2 separate regions of the Homo sapiens genome follow, and region 2 is linked to region 1. A link means that fine-mapping ties the variant in region 1 to the expression of a gene that starts in the linked region. Tissue or cell type: thyroid. Region 1 holds a variant in brackets; the other region holds the start of a gene. All regions are shown on one strand. Distances are from middle to middle.

Region 1 (8,000 bases):
TGAATTAGTTTATTTCTAATTATTTTATGAGATTTAGTCTTTAGTCTGTGTTGGTAGAGAGTGCACTGGTCTCATTGTTGCGGCCTCCCTCCTAATAATGTAGGAAAAACTTGACCATTTTTGGGTGATTCAAAAATGCAGATAATGACAACTAATTTTTTATTCTTATACATCAGTCTTCCACAGTAAGCTATATTTTGGGCCCCTAGAATGAGGATTAAATTTAAGCCCTATTATTTTCTGTTGTTTTATTTTGCTGAGCATTAATCACTACTGTACTTTGTGTATAGCTTTCCACTAGAGTATAAGCTTCTTGAGAGTTGGGGCTTTGTTTTTGTTTATGCTGTGTGCTAGATGCTTCAAATAGGGCCTAACACATAGCAAGTGCTGAATAAGTATTTGTTGATATTGTTGAAAGCCTGGATATATGCTCTTCTTTGCTACCAATTTTCTTGAATGCTAGGATTAAGCCACTAGAGTGGAGGAGGGTCTGGATGCAGTGGCTCTCACCTGTGGTCCCAGCTACCCAGGAGGTTGAGGCAGAAGTATCATTTGAGCCCAGGGGCTTAAGGCTGTGATGAGCTATGACTGTGCCAGTGCACTCCAGCTTGGGCTACAGAGCAAGACCCTGTCTCTAAAAAAATGAATAAATTAGAATGGAGGACACTTTGGCAGGTAGGGATGAGGAGGATATCTGGATATTGGGTCTTGCAGTGTAGATAAGAAACAGAGACCTAAACTATAACAAATAAAAACGTATGTGTAGCACACATGTCAGACTACCACATTGATGATGTTTGGTATTTGGACCATTTAGAACAAATAATAAAGTGTCTAGTTGATTTTAAAAGTTTAGTCTGTCTAGGTACAGTGACTTAGGCCTGTAATCCCAGCACTTTGGGAGACCAAGGCCAGTGGAATGCTTGACGTCAGGAGTTGAAGACCAGCCTGACCAACATGGTGAAACCCCGTCTCTACTAAAAATACAAAAATTAGCCGGGCATAGGCCGGGCGCGGTGGCTCACACCTGTAATCCCAGCACTTTGGAAGGCCGAGGCGGGCGGATCACAAGGTCAGGAGATCGAGACCATCCTGGCTAACACGGTGAAACCCCGTCTCTACTAAAAATACAAAAAATTAGCCGGGCGTGATGGTGGGCGCCTGTAGTCCCAGCTACTTAGGAGGCTGAGGCAGGAGAATGGTGTGAACCCGGGAGGCGGAGCTTGCAGTGAGCCCAGATCACGCCACTGCACTCCAGTCTGGGTGACAGAGCGAGACTCCATCTCAAAAAAAAAAAAAAAAAGAAAAAGAAAAATAGCCGGGCATAGTGGCACATGCCTGTAATCCCAGCTACCCAGGAGGCTGAGACAGGAGAATCGCTTCAACTCGGGAGGCAGAGGTTGCTGTACGCCGAGATCGTGCCACTGCACTCCAGCCTGGGCGACAGAGACTCTGTCTCAAAAAAAAAAATTAAAAAAATTAAAGTTTAGTCTGAATTTTAAGCTCTCCTATTCTTTTTTTTTTTTTCTTTTGTGAGACAGTTTCACTGTGGTCACTCAGGCTGGAGTGCAATGGTGCGATCTCTGCTCACTGCAACCTCCGCCTCCCGGGTTCAAGTGATTCTTCAGCCTCAGCCTCCCTAGTAGCTGGGATTACAGGCGTCCGCCACCCCACCTGGCTAATTTTTTTTTTTTTCTTGCACCAAAGCTTTCTAAAGTTAGTGATTTATTTCTGACAAGTTTGCAAAACCCAAGAGAGAGCAGTTTTCTGGGTTGAACTCATACTTCGTGTTTACTCGAGTCTGAGTCACGGCACCTGACTTCCTCACAGGTGCACCTGACTGCTCTTTACCACCTGGCTAATTTTTATATTGTTTTAGTAGAGACAGGGTTTCACCATGTTGGTCAGGCTGGTCTCAAACTCCTCACCTCCAGTGATCCGCCCACTTCGGCCTCCCAAAGTGTTGGGATTACAGGCGTGAGCCACCATGCCCGGCCTTAAGCTCTCCTGTTCTAATCCTGTCCTAAACTGTGCCTAGGTTTTGCTGACCTTTAGACAGCCTTAAAGCTGTGAAGTTGCAAGTGATGATGTTTGTGTTATTCTCGGGTCTTGGTTTTGGTTATTAAGTCAAGGAATTGATACATTATGTATATCATGTAGATAGACATACATTCTTTGTATCTTTCTATTTTGGGGGGGTAACGGACACTCTTAATTAGGTTTCATTAATTTTCTCTGTTTATCTCACTTTTGGAATAATACTTTATTTTTGCATTGCACTTTCACATCAAAAAGGGTTAAAATTCAGTAAACATTTATTATATGCCAGATAGTAGGCTAGGTTCTTTCATATATATTACCTTATTTAATTCTCAAAACAACCCTGGAAGGTAGATGGTATCGTTTTAAACCTTGATTTTTTTTTTTTTTTTAATTATGGAGAGAGAGGCCCAGGGAGGGGCCATGACTTGCCCAAGATCACAGAGTCGGTAAGAGGTGAAACCAGACCTTGAACTCAGGTACCCTGACTCCAAACTCCCAGGTTTCTTCTCTCATACCATCCAACGTCTCTTGTGTACTTTATACAGAAAACAGGCCGGGTGCAGTGGCTCACGCCTGTAATCCCAACTACTTTGCAAGGCCGAGGCGGGCAGATTGCCTGAGGTCAGGAGTTCAAGACCAGCCTGGCCAACATGACGAAACCCCATCTCTACTAAAAATACAAAATTAGCTGGGCATGGTGGTGCACGCCTGTAGTCCCAGCTACTCGGGAGGCTGAGGTGGGAGAATCGCCTGAACCTGGGAGGTGGAGGTTGCTGTGAGCTGAGATCTCACCGTCGCACTCCAGCCTGGGTGACAAGAGCGAAACTCCGTCTCAAAAAAATAATAATAATAACACTCTTACTCCACGGTGTGTAGGCTGAGTACTTTCTCTCTTTTGAGGCTACTTTAGTGTTTTCTTTTCTTTTTTTTTTTTTTTTGAGATGGAATTTCGCTCTTGTCGCCCAGGTTGGAGTGTAGTGGTGCGATATTGGCTCACTGAAACCTCTGCCTCCCAGGTTCAGGCAATTCTCCTGCCTCAGCCTCCTTAGTAGCTGGGATTACAGGCGTGTGCCACCACGCCTGGCTAATTTTTGTATTTTTAGTAGAGATGGGGTTTTACCATATTGGCCAGGCTGGTCTGGAACTCCTGACCTCGGGTGATCCACTTGCCTTGGCCTCCCAGAATGCTGAGATTACAGGCATGAGCCACGACTTTCCGCCTACTTTAACATTTTCTTGCTAACGTCTGTCTGCTTAACATCCTGAATTAGATAGCTATAAATATTTGATAGCCAGTGTTTGATTATGTTTCAAACAAAGATGGCACATTCTTTCTTTTCATGAACTTTGAACTTATTGCACTTGATCTGTTAAAACGGCAGTATTGTGCAGTTTGTGTGTATGTCAAGGCTTTTATTTATGTATGTCACTCATATCCTTGTTTTCTGTTTTAAATTTTAGGTTCTTGGGGTTTTTCTCTGTCTGTGAGTACTTGGTAAAAAGTTAAACCCTAAAGATAAAAGGCAGCAAATAGTGACCAAACGAATGTTTTTGGCAAATACATTGGTGAAGGCCTCCTTCAGGTAGGTAGAGAGGAGGAGGGAAGAGGGTGGCCTTTCAGGTGGTAAAGACAGCATAAGCTTTATACTACTACTAT[A/G]AGGCCTATTCTGTGGATCTCTGATAGATGAGCAGACTGAAGTAGGTGGTGTCTTTTGAGGGGCACTGCTGATAACGTTGGGTAGAAATTTTAAACAACTTTGAAAGCCAAGTATGGACATAGCCATTAGAAGTTTTGTTTTTTTTGTTTTTTGGATATGGAGTCTCACTGCGATGTCCAGGCTAGAGTGCAATGGCACGATCTCGGCTCACTGTAACCTACGCTTCCTGGGTTCAAGCGATTCTCCTGCCTCAGCCTCCCAAGTAGCTGGGATTACAGGCACGTGCCACCACGCCCGGCTAATTTTTTGTATTTTTAGTAGAGACGGGGTCTCAACTATTATTGGCCAGGCTGGTCTGGAACTCCTGACCTCAAATGATCCGCCTGCCTCGGCCTCCCAAAGTACTGGGATTATAGGCATGAGCCGCTGCGTCCAGCCAGTTTGTTTTTAATATAACAGTGATTTGGCCAAAGTGGCATTTTGGGAGTAATGTCTCCAGTTTCAGGTCGGGGTGGTCTAGAAAGAAATTCAAATAGCTTGCCTTTTGAGGTGACAGGAACCCTGAACTCTTAAGGCAGTGGTTTTCAAAGTGTAGGTCTCTCATTAGCAGCATGAGCATTAACTGAGTGTCTGGGAACATATTAGAATGCAAATTCTTGGGCCCCACCCCAAACTTACTGAACCAGAAACTCTGGAGTTGGGGCCTAGCAATCTGTGTTTTAACAAGACAGGTGATTTTGATCCACGCAAAAGTTTGAGAACCATTGCTGTGGGTTATAGGTAGAAATGGAAAGGAAGAGATAGAAGCAAGACACATTGGCAGTGAAGGACTGACTAAACTTTGTAACTGATGGATAGCAGCATGTTATGATAGAGAAGAGTACTTAATTGGGGATGTTGAGCCTTGAGTTTTAGTATCAAGTCTCTTACCAATTGTGCTTTTATTCGTATTTATTTATTTATTTTTTGAGAGGGAGTTTCACTCTTGTTGGCCAGGCTGGAGTGTAATGGTGCTATCTTGGCTCAGTGCAATCTCCGCCTTCAGGGTTCAAGCACTTCTCCTGCCTCAGCCTCCCAGGTAGCTGGGATTACAGGCGTGCGCCACCACACTGCGCTAATTTTGTGTTTTTTTTTGTAGAGATGGTGTTTTACCATGTTGGTCAGGCTGGTCTCAAACTCCTGACCTCAAGTGATCCACCCGCCTTGGCCTCCCAAAGGGCTGGGATTATAGGTGTGAGCCACCGTGCCTGGCCTATTTTTATTTTTTGTTTTGAGACAGAATCTCACTCTGTTGCCCAGGCTGGAGTGCAGTGGCCTAATCTCTGCTCACTGTAACCTCTGCCTCCTGGGTTCAGGTGATTCTTCTGTCTCAGCCTCTCCAGTAGCTTGGATTACAGGCTCCCACCACCACGCCCGGCCAATTTTTATATTTTTAGTAGAGACGGGGTTTTGCCATGTTGGCCAGTCTGGTCTTGAACTCCTGACCTCAGGTGATCTGCCCACCTCGGCCTCCCAAAGTGCTGGGATTACAGGCGTGAGCCACCGCACCCGGCTTCCAACTGTGGTTTTTTTTTTGAGACAGAGTCTCTGGCTCCTAGGCTGACGTGCAGTGGCGCCATCTCGGCTTACTATAACTTCCGCCTCCCAGGTTCAAGCGATTCTCCTGCCTCAGCCAGCTGGGTTTACAGCCCTGCGCCACCACACCCAGGTAATTTTTGTATTTTTAGTAGAGACAGGGTTTCACCATGTTGGTCAGAGTGGTCTCAAACTCCTGACCTCGTGATCCTCCCACCTCGGCCTCCCAAAGTGCTAGGATTAGAGGCGTGAGCCACCATGCCCGGCACCAACTGTGGTTTTAAACAAGAAAACTGACCTGTCCTTGTTGAAGTTGTACAGTGTGCTTTCTGAGGATTTTGAAGGCAAAGACAAATGAAATACTAAGGTAGACTTTGGGATTTAGCTTGGATTACCAGGAAGACTGGGGGAAAGATTTTTTGAAACTTTGAGGAGAGAATATGAGTGGATGAGGCTTTAGACAGTTGGAGATACTAGAAGATTTAAAGCAGATTCTCAACTGGGGATGATTTTGCCCCCAAGGAAACATTTAGCAGTGGACATTTCTGATGGTCAGACTGGGGTAGTGCTACTGGTATTTAATGAGTAGAGGCTAGGGATGCTGCTAAAGCATTCTGCAGTGCACAGGACAGCCCTAACTACGATGAATGAACAGGTCCAGAATGTCAGTAGTACAAGGTTGACAAACCCTGATGTAAAGGGAAATACCCAGTAGATAGGTTGCATGTTTCCGTCCTGATTATCTGCTATTCATTTTATAATTTTATTTTTTAAAGTTTTATTTATTTATTTACTTTTTTTTTGAGACAGTCAATCTGTTGCCGAGGCTGGAATGTAGTGGTGCGATCTCGGCTCACTTAAACCTCTGCCTCTTGGGTTCAAGTGATTCTCCTGCCTCAGCCTCCTGAGTAGCTGGGATTACAGGTATGCGTCGCCACGCCCAGCTAATTTTTATATTTTTAGTGGAGACAGGATTTCGCCACGTTGACTAGGCTGGTCTCGAACTTCTGACCTCAGGTGATCCACCTGCTTCAGCCTCTCAAAGTGCTGGGATTACAAGTGTGAGCCACCTCACCTGGCCTTGAATTTTAGATAAATCTAACACAAAACATCTCAAAAGCAGTCTCACATTGTGTTTCCCACATCATGCTTTGCAAAAGTAAGCATGAAGCCCTTTTTCTGTTGTTGAATTTTCACAAAACTAACTTCATGGTCATGACAATCCTCAACCCAGTTGCATATTTTCTTTACTCCTTTTAACATACGCAAAGATCAACTTATTTCGGTAACATAAGCATTCACTGTCTAGACATCAGTCATTAAGCTACAGCAGATAAGATTTTCTTTTTTTTTTTTCCCCCTGAGACGGAGTTTCACTTTTGTTGCCCAGGCTGGAGTGCAATGGCGCGATCTCGTCTCACCACAACCTCCGCCTTCTGGGTTCAAGCGATTCTCCTGCCTCAGCCTCCCGAGTAGCTGGGATTACAGGTATGCACCACCCTGCCCAGCTAATTTTGTATTTTTAGTAGAGAAAAAGTTTCAGCATGTTGGTCAGGATGGTCTCGATCTCTTGACCTCGTTCCACCTGCCTCGGCCTCCAAAAGTGTTGGGATTACAAGCGTGAGCCACCGCGCCCAGCACAGATTTCCTTTTGATACTCTCTTTGAAGGATAGGGAAATGAGATAAAAGTTGTGGTGCTGTTGTGAGCAAATGTTAAAATATTTTTAATTGCCCTGTAGCTGAAGACCGCATGATCACTCTGAAAAACTGCCTCATGAGCTGGTTGTGGCCCTCAGCCTTAATTCATCTCTTTAGATCCTGGATCACAGACGTTAGCAACTTTTTTGTTTGTCAAGGCAGTAATCTGCGTAAATGACTCGTTTCTGAGAGTGACCTCAAGATAATATATATTCATAAATGTAGTGATCGTTTTATAGTAGTTTTATAGTTTGCAAAGTACTTCTTTGTCTCTTGTGTCTTTTTGTCATTTTAGTCTTTTGATCATCACCATCTTAGTCTTTTGATCATCACCATTCTTGGGGTTGCCAGAACTTGTGGACAGTGCTACATGTTGGGTAATCCCAAAAGTTGCCATTCACATATCTTAATCTATGTGAATAAAGATGCCCTTGGAATTCAATGGTGCACACCCTGTAGAACTATGAACTGATGTTTCTACCCACTACTGAAGTCTAGATTCTAGATAGCTCATCCTATCATATACTTTCATTGCATTCTGTGTTTACCTTTGTTGCCTTTGTGTAACTATAATTAACGTTACTAGTGTGTTTGTTTAATATCTGATTTTTTCACCAGGCCAGAAACCATTTTTGGGGGATAAGGTAAAGGAAAAGTCACACTGCATATTTGAAAGTAGGAGATAAAAACCCAATCTCATGGATAATAGCACACATTGATTGAATGTGTACTGTGTGCTTGGTACTGGCATTTTCGATATACTCACTAATTTAATTCTCAAGAACCCTTTGAAATGGATTCTTTGACTCCCATTTTAAAGTTTTGGAAACAGATCCAAAGTGCAGTTAAGTGTCTCAGATTATCCAGTTAAGGGACAGAGCCAGGATTCAAAGTAAACAGTCTGGTGATTCCAGAGCATACTTAAGTTATACTGCCTCTTCATCAACTTTGTTGGGACACAGTTTATAAATGTTTCACTGATGAATTGAGGGTGTTTCCCAAGTCATCTGTTCTCATTCAGGAGA
Region 2 (8,095 bases), 260 kb after region 1:
GGCAGGACAGCTTCTCCCCCAAGCTGGGGTGGATGAGGGGCATAGGGGAGCCTCGGGGCCCCTTCAGGATCACAGCATGTCAAGGTTGGAAGGGACCTCAGTGAGTACCTCCTACTCTCCCCAGCCCCCACCATCACATCATACAGATGAGGAAGCAGCCGAGACAGGGAGGGATTTGCACAAATCACACGGGGGCAGGGACGTATCCTACCACAGCTCCCGACTTCCCGCTCTAGGCTTCTTGCTGTTCTAAGCCCTTCAGAAAGTTCCAACGAGTTCTGACTTTTGGCAAGGGGGTGGGAGGGTGACTGAAAACTACTCAATACGAGTCGAAAGAGTGTATGTCAGCTGGGGGCAGTGGCTCACACCTGCCCCTGGCTGATATAAAAGGCAGACATGGTTCCTGGCCTTGTGAGGTAGACACACTAGTGGAGAAGACAGATATGAAACATATGAAAAAAAGCTTATGTGTCCCTTCTCTTCTGCCTAGGGTCCTCAAGGTCATAGAACCCCATAACCCCATTAGGTGTCAGGGGCAGAAACAGGACTGTGTGAAGATTCACAGCCTCCACCTCCCTTGCCTTCACGGAGCTTCGGCATCTACCCTTATTCCAGGCGGCTGCTCAGGTAATGAGTATGAGGCAGAGGTGGGAAGGCTGTCCTGGTTTACACGTGGTGGGGGAGGGGTCCAGAGCGCAGGATGAGGCTGAGAGCATGGGGACAACTGTCAAGCAGGGACAGATGGGACTGTGGGTGGAGGGCTGGAAGTTGGATGTTTCTCTCAGCACTGTGCTAAGAGTGACTTAGAGACATCTCAGCTGCATTTGGCTCACGCTGATTTATTTATTTGTTTGTTTGCTTATTTTTCCATGCCCTTTGTCAACAGGAATGGTTTACAGATATTTATTCATTCATTCATTTTTTGAGACAGAATCTCACTCTGTTGCCCAGGCTGGAGTGCAGTGGCGCGATCTTGGCTCACTGCAACCTCCACCTCCCAGGTTCTAGCGATTCTCCTGCCTCAGCCTCCTGAGTAGCTGGGATTACAGGCACGTGCCACCATGCCTGGCTAATTTTTGTATTATTAGTAGAGATGGGGTTTCACCATGTCGGCCAGGCTGGTCTTAAACTCCTGGCCTCAGGTGATCCACTTGCCCCGGCCTCCCAAAGTGCTGGGATTACAGGCGTGAGCCATAGCGCTCGGCCTACTTTTTTTTTTTTTTTTTTTTTTTGAGAAAGGGTCTGGCTCTCTTACCCAGGCTGCAGTGCAGTGGCGCTATCTCAGCTCACTGCAATCTCCACCTCCTGGGCTCAAGTGATCCACCAGCCTTGGTCTCCCACAGTGCTGGGATTAAGCATGAGCCGCCGCGCCCGGCTGGTTTACACATTTTTAAATGTAACACCTATTTATTCATTATTTACTGAGTGCCAGACCCTGTGTGAGGTACATACAGCAACAAACAAAACAGACATGGATGCTGGGTGTGGTGGCTCACGCCTGTAATCCTAGCACTTTGGGAGGCTAAGGCAGGAGGATCGCCTGAGCCCAGGAGTTCAACTCCAGCCTGGGCAACAGAAGGAGACCTTGTCTCTAACAAACATTTAAAAAATTAGCTGGCTGTAGTGGCATGCGCCAGTAGCCCTAGTTACTCGGGAGGTTGAGGTGGAAGGATCGCTTGAGCCTGGGAAGTTGAGGCTGCAGTGATCTATGATCGTGCCACTACACTCCAGCCTGGGTGACAAAGCAAGAACCCATCTTAACAAACAAAACAAAACAGAACAAACAAAACAAAGCCAAGGCCGGGTGCAGTGGCTCACGCCTGTAATCCCAGCACTTTGGAAGGCTGAGACGGGCAGATCAGTTGAGGTCAGGAGTTTGAGACCAGCCTGGCCAACATGGCAAAACCCCATCTCTAATAAAAATACAAGAATTAGCCGGGCGTGGTGGCACACACCTGTATTCCCAGGTACTTGGGAGGCTGAGGCACAAGAATTGCTTGAACCCCAGAGGCGGAGGTTACAGTGAGCCGAGATCGCGCCACTGCCCTCCAGCCTGGGCGACAGAGCAAGACTCTGTCTTCAGAAAAAACAAAAAACCAAAAACCAGACATGGTTCCTGCCCTTGTGAGGCAGACACACTAGTGAGGAAGACAGATGTTAAACAGGCAAACACACGCATGAAATAACGTGATAAGTGCTGTGGCTAAAACAGGGTCTAGCTAGAGTGTAATGGGATGCTGGTGGGGGCAGAAAAGACGGCACTGAGCCTGGAGGAAGAGAAGCACCGCCACGTTAGAAGGGGTAAGACGATGCCAAGTGGTGGGGACAGCTAAGGATGTGCTAAAATCCCCAGGTGGAAAAGGAAGTGGAGGGTTCAGGGAGCCCACAGGGTTGGCATGGCTGTGCAGGTGATCAAGGGGAGGCCACAGGTGGAGAAATGGGTGGCGGCGGCTCCTGCAGGTTCAGGGCAGAGTTTGGATTTTATGGCAACCACTGGAGTGTGCAAACACGGGAGAGGCATGACACAATGGACATTTTAGGAGGGTCACTTTGCTGCTGTATGGAGAGTGGCCTGGAGGGGGCAGGGTGGAGGCAGGAGACCACTGAGAGCTGTTACAGTCATCCAGGTGAGAGGATGGTGGCCTAGGCCTTGGAGATGGAAGAGGAGGGCAAAGTTGCCACCTGTTAAGTTGCCACCTGTTTGGGAAGCAGAGTGGTCAGGACTTAACTGAAAGACTGTGTAGGGGTGAGGGCGAGCATGAGGTCAAGGATGACTCCAGCATACTGAGCCGGATGCCCAGGGACAGGGGCACTATTTCCATGGATCCCCCGGGAAGGGGAAGGGAAGAGTAACCTCCTCCCCCAAGGCTCCACGGAAGGGGCAAGGGCTGGTGACGAGGGGAGCAGAAGGGAAGGAGAGGGAGAAACAAAGTGTATGCATGTATCCAAATGTGTACAATTATTATGTATCAATTCAACTCATTTGAAAGTGGGTCTGGAGAGCAAGGGTGGCAGAGATAAATATATCTTCTGCACTACCACAGGACCTGAGGGGCAAGGCACGGGCAGGCCCTGCAGGAATACAGGGATGCCCTGGGCCCTTCCAAGAACTACCAGAGCCTTGGTACTGTGGGGAGAGTAGGGGTCAGTGAGTTTCTCCAGGACTCCCTTACATTTTACACACGTGGACCCGGAAGCCCAGGGGAAGGGGAATACCTTCCAGCTGATGCATCCCCACCTGGCACACAGTCTGGTTTTTTTTTTTGAGATGGAGTCTCACTCTGTTGCCAGGCTAGAGTGCAGTGGCGCGATCTCGGCTCACTGCAACCTCCGCCTCCGGGTTCAAGCAATTCTCCTGCCTCAGCCTCCAGAGTAGCTGGGACTACAGGCGCGTGACAACATGCCCGGCTACTTTTTGTACTTTTAGTAGAGACGGGGTTTCACCATGTTGGCCAGAATGGTCTGGATCTCTTGACCTCGTGATCCGCCCGCCTCGGCCTCCCAAAGTGGTAGGATTACAGGCGTAAGCCACCGTACCCGGCCAGTCTGGGGTCTTTTAAAAATACAGACCCGGGGCTGGGCGCGGTGGCCCATGCCTGTAATCCCAGCACTTTGGGAGACCGAGGCGGGCGGATCACTTGAGGTCAGGAGTTCGAGACCAGCCTGGCCAACATGGTGAAACCCGTCTCTACTAAAAGTACAAAAATTAGCCAGGCGTTGTGGCAGGCGCCTGTAATCCCAGCTACTTGGGAGGCTGAAGCAGGAGAATCGCTTGAACCTGGGAGGCGTGATCGTGCCACTGTACTCCAGCCTGGGCGACAGAGCGAGGCTCTATCTCAAAACAAACAAACAAAAAAACCCCACACACACACACAAAAAACAAAAAACAGGCCGGTGCAGTAGCTCACTCCACTTTGAGAGGCCAAGGCGGAAAGACAGCTTGAACCCCACAGTTGAGACCGGCCTGGGCAACATGGCAAGACTCCGTCTCTACCCAAAAAAAAAAAAAAAAAAAAAGGGCCGGGCGTGGTGGGTGTGCCTGTGGTCCCAGATACTCAGGAGACTGAGATGGGAGGATCCCTTGAGCCCAGGAGTTCCAGGCGGCAGTGAGCCGTGTTCGCGCCACTGCACTCCAGCCTGGGTGACAGAGCAAGAATATGTCTCAAAAAACAAACAAACAAAAAAAGGCACATAACCACGATCTACCCTCGTAAAACGTTTCCAGAGCGTCCCAGCGGTGCCCCTCATCATCTGGCGGCCCCTACGCCTCTCTGAGACTCACAGACCTACTCCCCTCTCCAGGGGGCGGAGCCCACACCGCTGAGCATTTACTCTTGTTCTTCCCTCTGCCAGGGGCACCGTTCTACCCCTTTCTGCCTGGAGAAACTGCCGTTTTTCCTTAAAGGATCCTCGAAGCCGGAAGGAGCAGCCACCTCCCACTCCCGGCTGCTGCAAGCAAGCTGCTTTGACTTCTTTCTAGAGTTGGGGATTGCTGCTGGAGTCCGAGTCTCAGGCCCAGAGTGGGTGCGATGGTCTTGCTTGCACCCTGTATCCCCCGGCAGACGCCCGGGAACTCTACTAAGTGGGTGACCCCAGAGAGCTCGCCCCCACACTCCGACTCCGAGTCCAGCACTCGGTCCACTGCACAGGGACCTCGCGCCCCACAGCTGCGTCCTCTCTGACCTTCGCAATCCGGTGCGCGGCCCGCGGAACGCCCCGATCTCCAGGGGCACGGAAGGCCGAGGCGTGCCGGGGGAGCCAGGAGCAGCTGGCTGGCGGGCGCCGCGGGCCTCCCCGGTCACGTGACACCCCGGACAACGTGCGCCGTCACGTGACGGCAGAGCCTGTGAGCGTTTTTCTCACGTGACGGAGGCGCCTGCACGTGGACCAATGGGGAGGCGGGGGCGGGGCCGGCAGGGGCGGTGCGCGGGAAGGGACCCCGGACCCGGAGGTCGCGGAGAGCTGGGCAGTGTTGGCCGCTGGCGGAGCGCTGGGGCAGCATGAAGTGCCTGGTCACGGGCGGCAACGTGAAGGGTGAGTGCAGGTCGGCCTGGCAGCGGCGGTGCAGCAGCCGCGGAGCCGCCAGCCTAACCCCCTTCCGCTCTTCTCCCCGCAGTGCTCGGCAAGGCCGTCCACTCCCTGTCCCGCATCGGGGACGAGCTCTACCTGGAACCCTTGGAGGACGGGGTGAGGGGCTAGGGTGTGGGGGGCGGGTGGGACTCCAGCCGGGAGCGGGTAACCCGGACTAGAGTCTCGCCCCCACTAGGCGGGATGACCGCTGGCAGATTTGTCGGCAAAGTTTCAGTTTCTTAGTCTGGCGGCTGTCATCTTCCCAGGCCGGTGTGTGAATTGAGGAAAGCTGTCCTGCGAGCTCCCAGGGGGTGACGTGCACTTAGAGAAACTCGGGGAAGGCCTGGGTGTGCGACCCCTCCTCTGCGGCAGCAGCGCCGGGGCCGACTCTGAAGGCTTCCATGGGGAAAGGAGGGTTTTTCAGCAGGTGGTGGCGGAGCGGGAGGACGATAGGGCAAGTGTGTGAGCAGAAGCAGCCAGAGGGCTGGGTCTGTGGCTGCCCCCTGACCACGTCCCTCTCCCTGCTCTTCGTGGCCCAGCTCTCCCTCCGGACGGTGAACTCCTCCCGCTCTGCCTATGCCTGCTTTCTCTTTGCCCCGCTCTTCTTCCAGCAATACCAGGCAGCCACCCCTGGTCAGGACCTGCTGCGCTGTAAGATCCTGATGAAGGTGAGGCCCTTCCCTCAGCAGTGGCACTACTCCACCCCAGGAATCTCCACCAGCTGTGCCTCTGCCCTGGGGTACTCAGTAGATGCTAAGTGGGGAGAGAGACACGTGCAAGCCCAATCCATGCAAAACACAGGGAGGGCCATGGTAAAAGCATCACAGCGGGGACCTGAGAGGGTGGTGACGCTCAAGTTCGTCAAGAAAGGTAAGCACGTCTTTTGGCCGGGCGCGGTGGCTCACGCCTGTAATCCCAGCACTTTGGGAGGCCGAGGCAGGCGGATCACGAGGTCAGGAGTTCGAGACCAGCCTGGCCAACATGGCGAAACCCCGTCTCTACTAAAAATACAAAAATTAGCTGGGCGTGGTGGCACGCGCCTGTAATCCCAGCTACTCGGGAGGCTGAGGCAGGAGAATTGCTTGAATCCGGGAGGTGGAGGTTGCAGTGAGCTGAGATCGCACCACTGCACTCCAGCCTGGGTGACAGAGCGAGACTCCATCTCAAAAAAAAAAAAAAAAAAGGTAAGCAGGTCTTTCAAGGCATTCCAAGCATAAGGAAGAGCATGAATGAGGCCTAGAAGGATGCCAGTGCCCGAGGTGACGTGGGAGCCCTTTTCCCAGAGTTACATGCTGGGCCCATGATGGGTGTGGGCCTGCATGGGACAGGAGAGCTTGTTGCAGAGATGTGATGCTAGGCTGAGGTGTCTTATCCCATGCAGTCTTTCCTGTCTGTCTTCCGCTCACTGGCGATGCTGGAGAAGACGGTGGAAAAATGCTGCATCTCCCTGAATGGCCGGAGCAGCCGCCTGGTGGTCCAGCTGCATTGCAAGTTCGGTGAGTGGGCAGCCGGCCAGCCAAGGGGTGCCTCAGCAGGGAGGTCGGCGAGGCCCACTGAGACCCTATCGCCCATCCAGGGGTGCGGAAGACTCACAACCTGTCCTTCCAGGACTGTGAGTCCCTGCAGGCCGTCTTCGACCCAGCCTCGTGCCCCCACATGCTCCGCGCCCCAGCACGGTGAGCACACCCCTGCCCTCAGCTCAGCCCCGGGTCTCTCTCTTCCTTCTTTGGGGCCCCAAGGGGTTGATTTTAGAAGGTACCTCTTTCATTTTCCCTACAGAGTTTCTGTGAACCTCAAAGACATCCCATGGCCCGCTATGTGCTCAGGTCCTTACCTGGCTCTTTAAAGGCAGACGGTGGCATGGAGGAGGGGCAGGCGCCTCCTTGCTCCATTCTCCTTACTGTTAGGAGCCTGCATTCTCCATCCCAAAGGTCTGACTTGACTTTCTGGCTGCTCAAACCCATTCCAACTCCTCCTCTAGGGAGCACATTTCTGGCCTGCCACCAAATCTCTTGTCTGGCTTGAGTAACCTTGAAGGTCTGCCCATAACCTGTGGCTCAGAGGCTCAGACCCCTTCTCCGGCCTGGGCATCCTTCCAGAGGTGTTCCCCATTCAACGGCAGCCTCTTTTCCTGACTGCCCAGGATCGAGGAGTCCCCAAGGCCAGGGCAGGAGGCTGGAGGGAGGCTGAATAATCAGCTATGGGGTGGAGCTGTTCTGGGCAGTCCGAGCACTGGGGGCTGTCTGGGGCCAGGGAAATGGGGACTCCAGTTGAAGCAAACGTCCCTGGCGAGGACCAGCTCAGAGAGGAGTGGGCTCTCCCCCTGCTCCATGCTGGTCACTGCTTGCATTCAAGTGGCCCAAGGTCCTGCTCATTTCTCAGGGTGACTGAAGATCCCTTTGGGTCCTGACATCTGTTTCCCCAGGTTCTTTTGAGCCAGCACTGCTCAGAGCTCTTTTGGGTAGTGAGAGACGGGGGCCAATTCCTTGGTCTGCATTTAGGGTGGTGTCTTTTTTTTTTTTTTTTGAGACAGAGTTTCGCTCTTGTTGCCCAGGCAATGGCACGATCTCGGCTCACCACAACCTCCGCCTCCCGATAAAAGTGATTCTCCTGCCTCAGCCTCCCGAGTAGCTGGGATTACAGGCATGCGCCACCATGCCCGGCTAATTTTTTGTATTTTTAGTAGAGACAGGGTTTCTCCATGTTGGTCAGGCTGGTCTTGAACTCCCGACCTCAGGTGATCTGCCCGTCTCAGCCTCCCAAAGTACTGGGATTACAGGCGTCAGCCACCACACTCAGTCTCTTTTTTTAAAAATGAGCAATTGTTTCTCTCGTTTTGTTTTGAGATAGAGTCTCGCTCTGTCACCCAGGCTGGAGTGCAGTGGTGCAATCTTGGCTCACTGCAATCTCTGCCTCCCGGGTTCAAGCGATTCTCCTGCCTCAGCCTCCCGAGTAGCTGGGATTACAGGCATGCACCACCACGCCCGGCTAATTTATATATGTTTAGTAGAGACGAGGTTTCACC

Alleles and levels. Positions count from the first base shown, and alleles are read on the strand shown. Sizes are in standard deviations (SD) of each study's normalised expression.
As copies of A replace G in region 1, the expression in thyroid of the gene that starts at base 4,942 in region 2 goes down (moderate effect, 0.66 SD a copy in GTEx).

What was found. PIP is the estimated chance that this variant, and not a neighbour inherited with it, causes the effect.
Region 2: it holds the start of RAD9A, and the variant in region 1 is fine-mapped to the expression of RAD9A in thyroid (GTEx, PIP 0.94).

Annotation. Positions count from the first base shown.
Region 1 is chr11:67,128,448-67,136,447 of GRCh38, forward strand. The region is part of intron 2 of KDM2A (lysine demethylase 2A); the gene reads left to right. LOC124902695 (a long non-coding RNA gene) reads left to right here and starts at 6,164. Exons shown (of 2, transcript XR_007062740.1): 1 at 6,164-6,200. The variant A/G (reference allele first, on the strand shown) is at 3,701.
Region 2 is chr11:67,387,045-67,395,139 of GRCh38, forward strand. It overlaps RAD9A (RAD9 checkpoint clamp component A), which reads left to right and starts at 4,942. Exons shown (of 11, transcript NM_004584.3): 1 at 4,942-5,034; 2 at 5,117-5,187; 3 at 5,610-5,738; 4 at 6,452-6,566; 5 at 6,647-6,746. The coding sequence starts at 5,001. LOC100130987 (a long non-coding RNA gene) reads left to right here. Exons shown (of 4, transcript NR_024469.1): 3 at 491-627; 4 at 4,354-4,643. RefSeq lists enhancers at 4,109-5,024, 5,059-5,563 and a silencer at 4,789-5,158.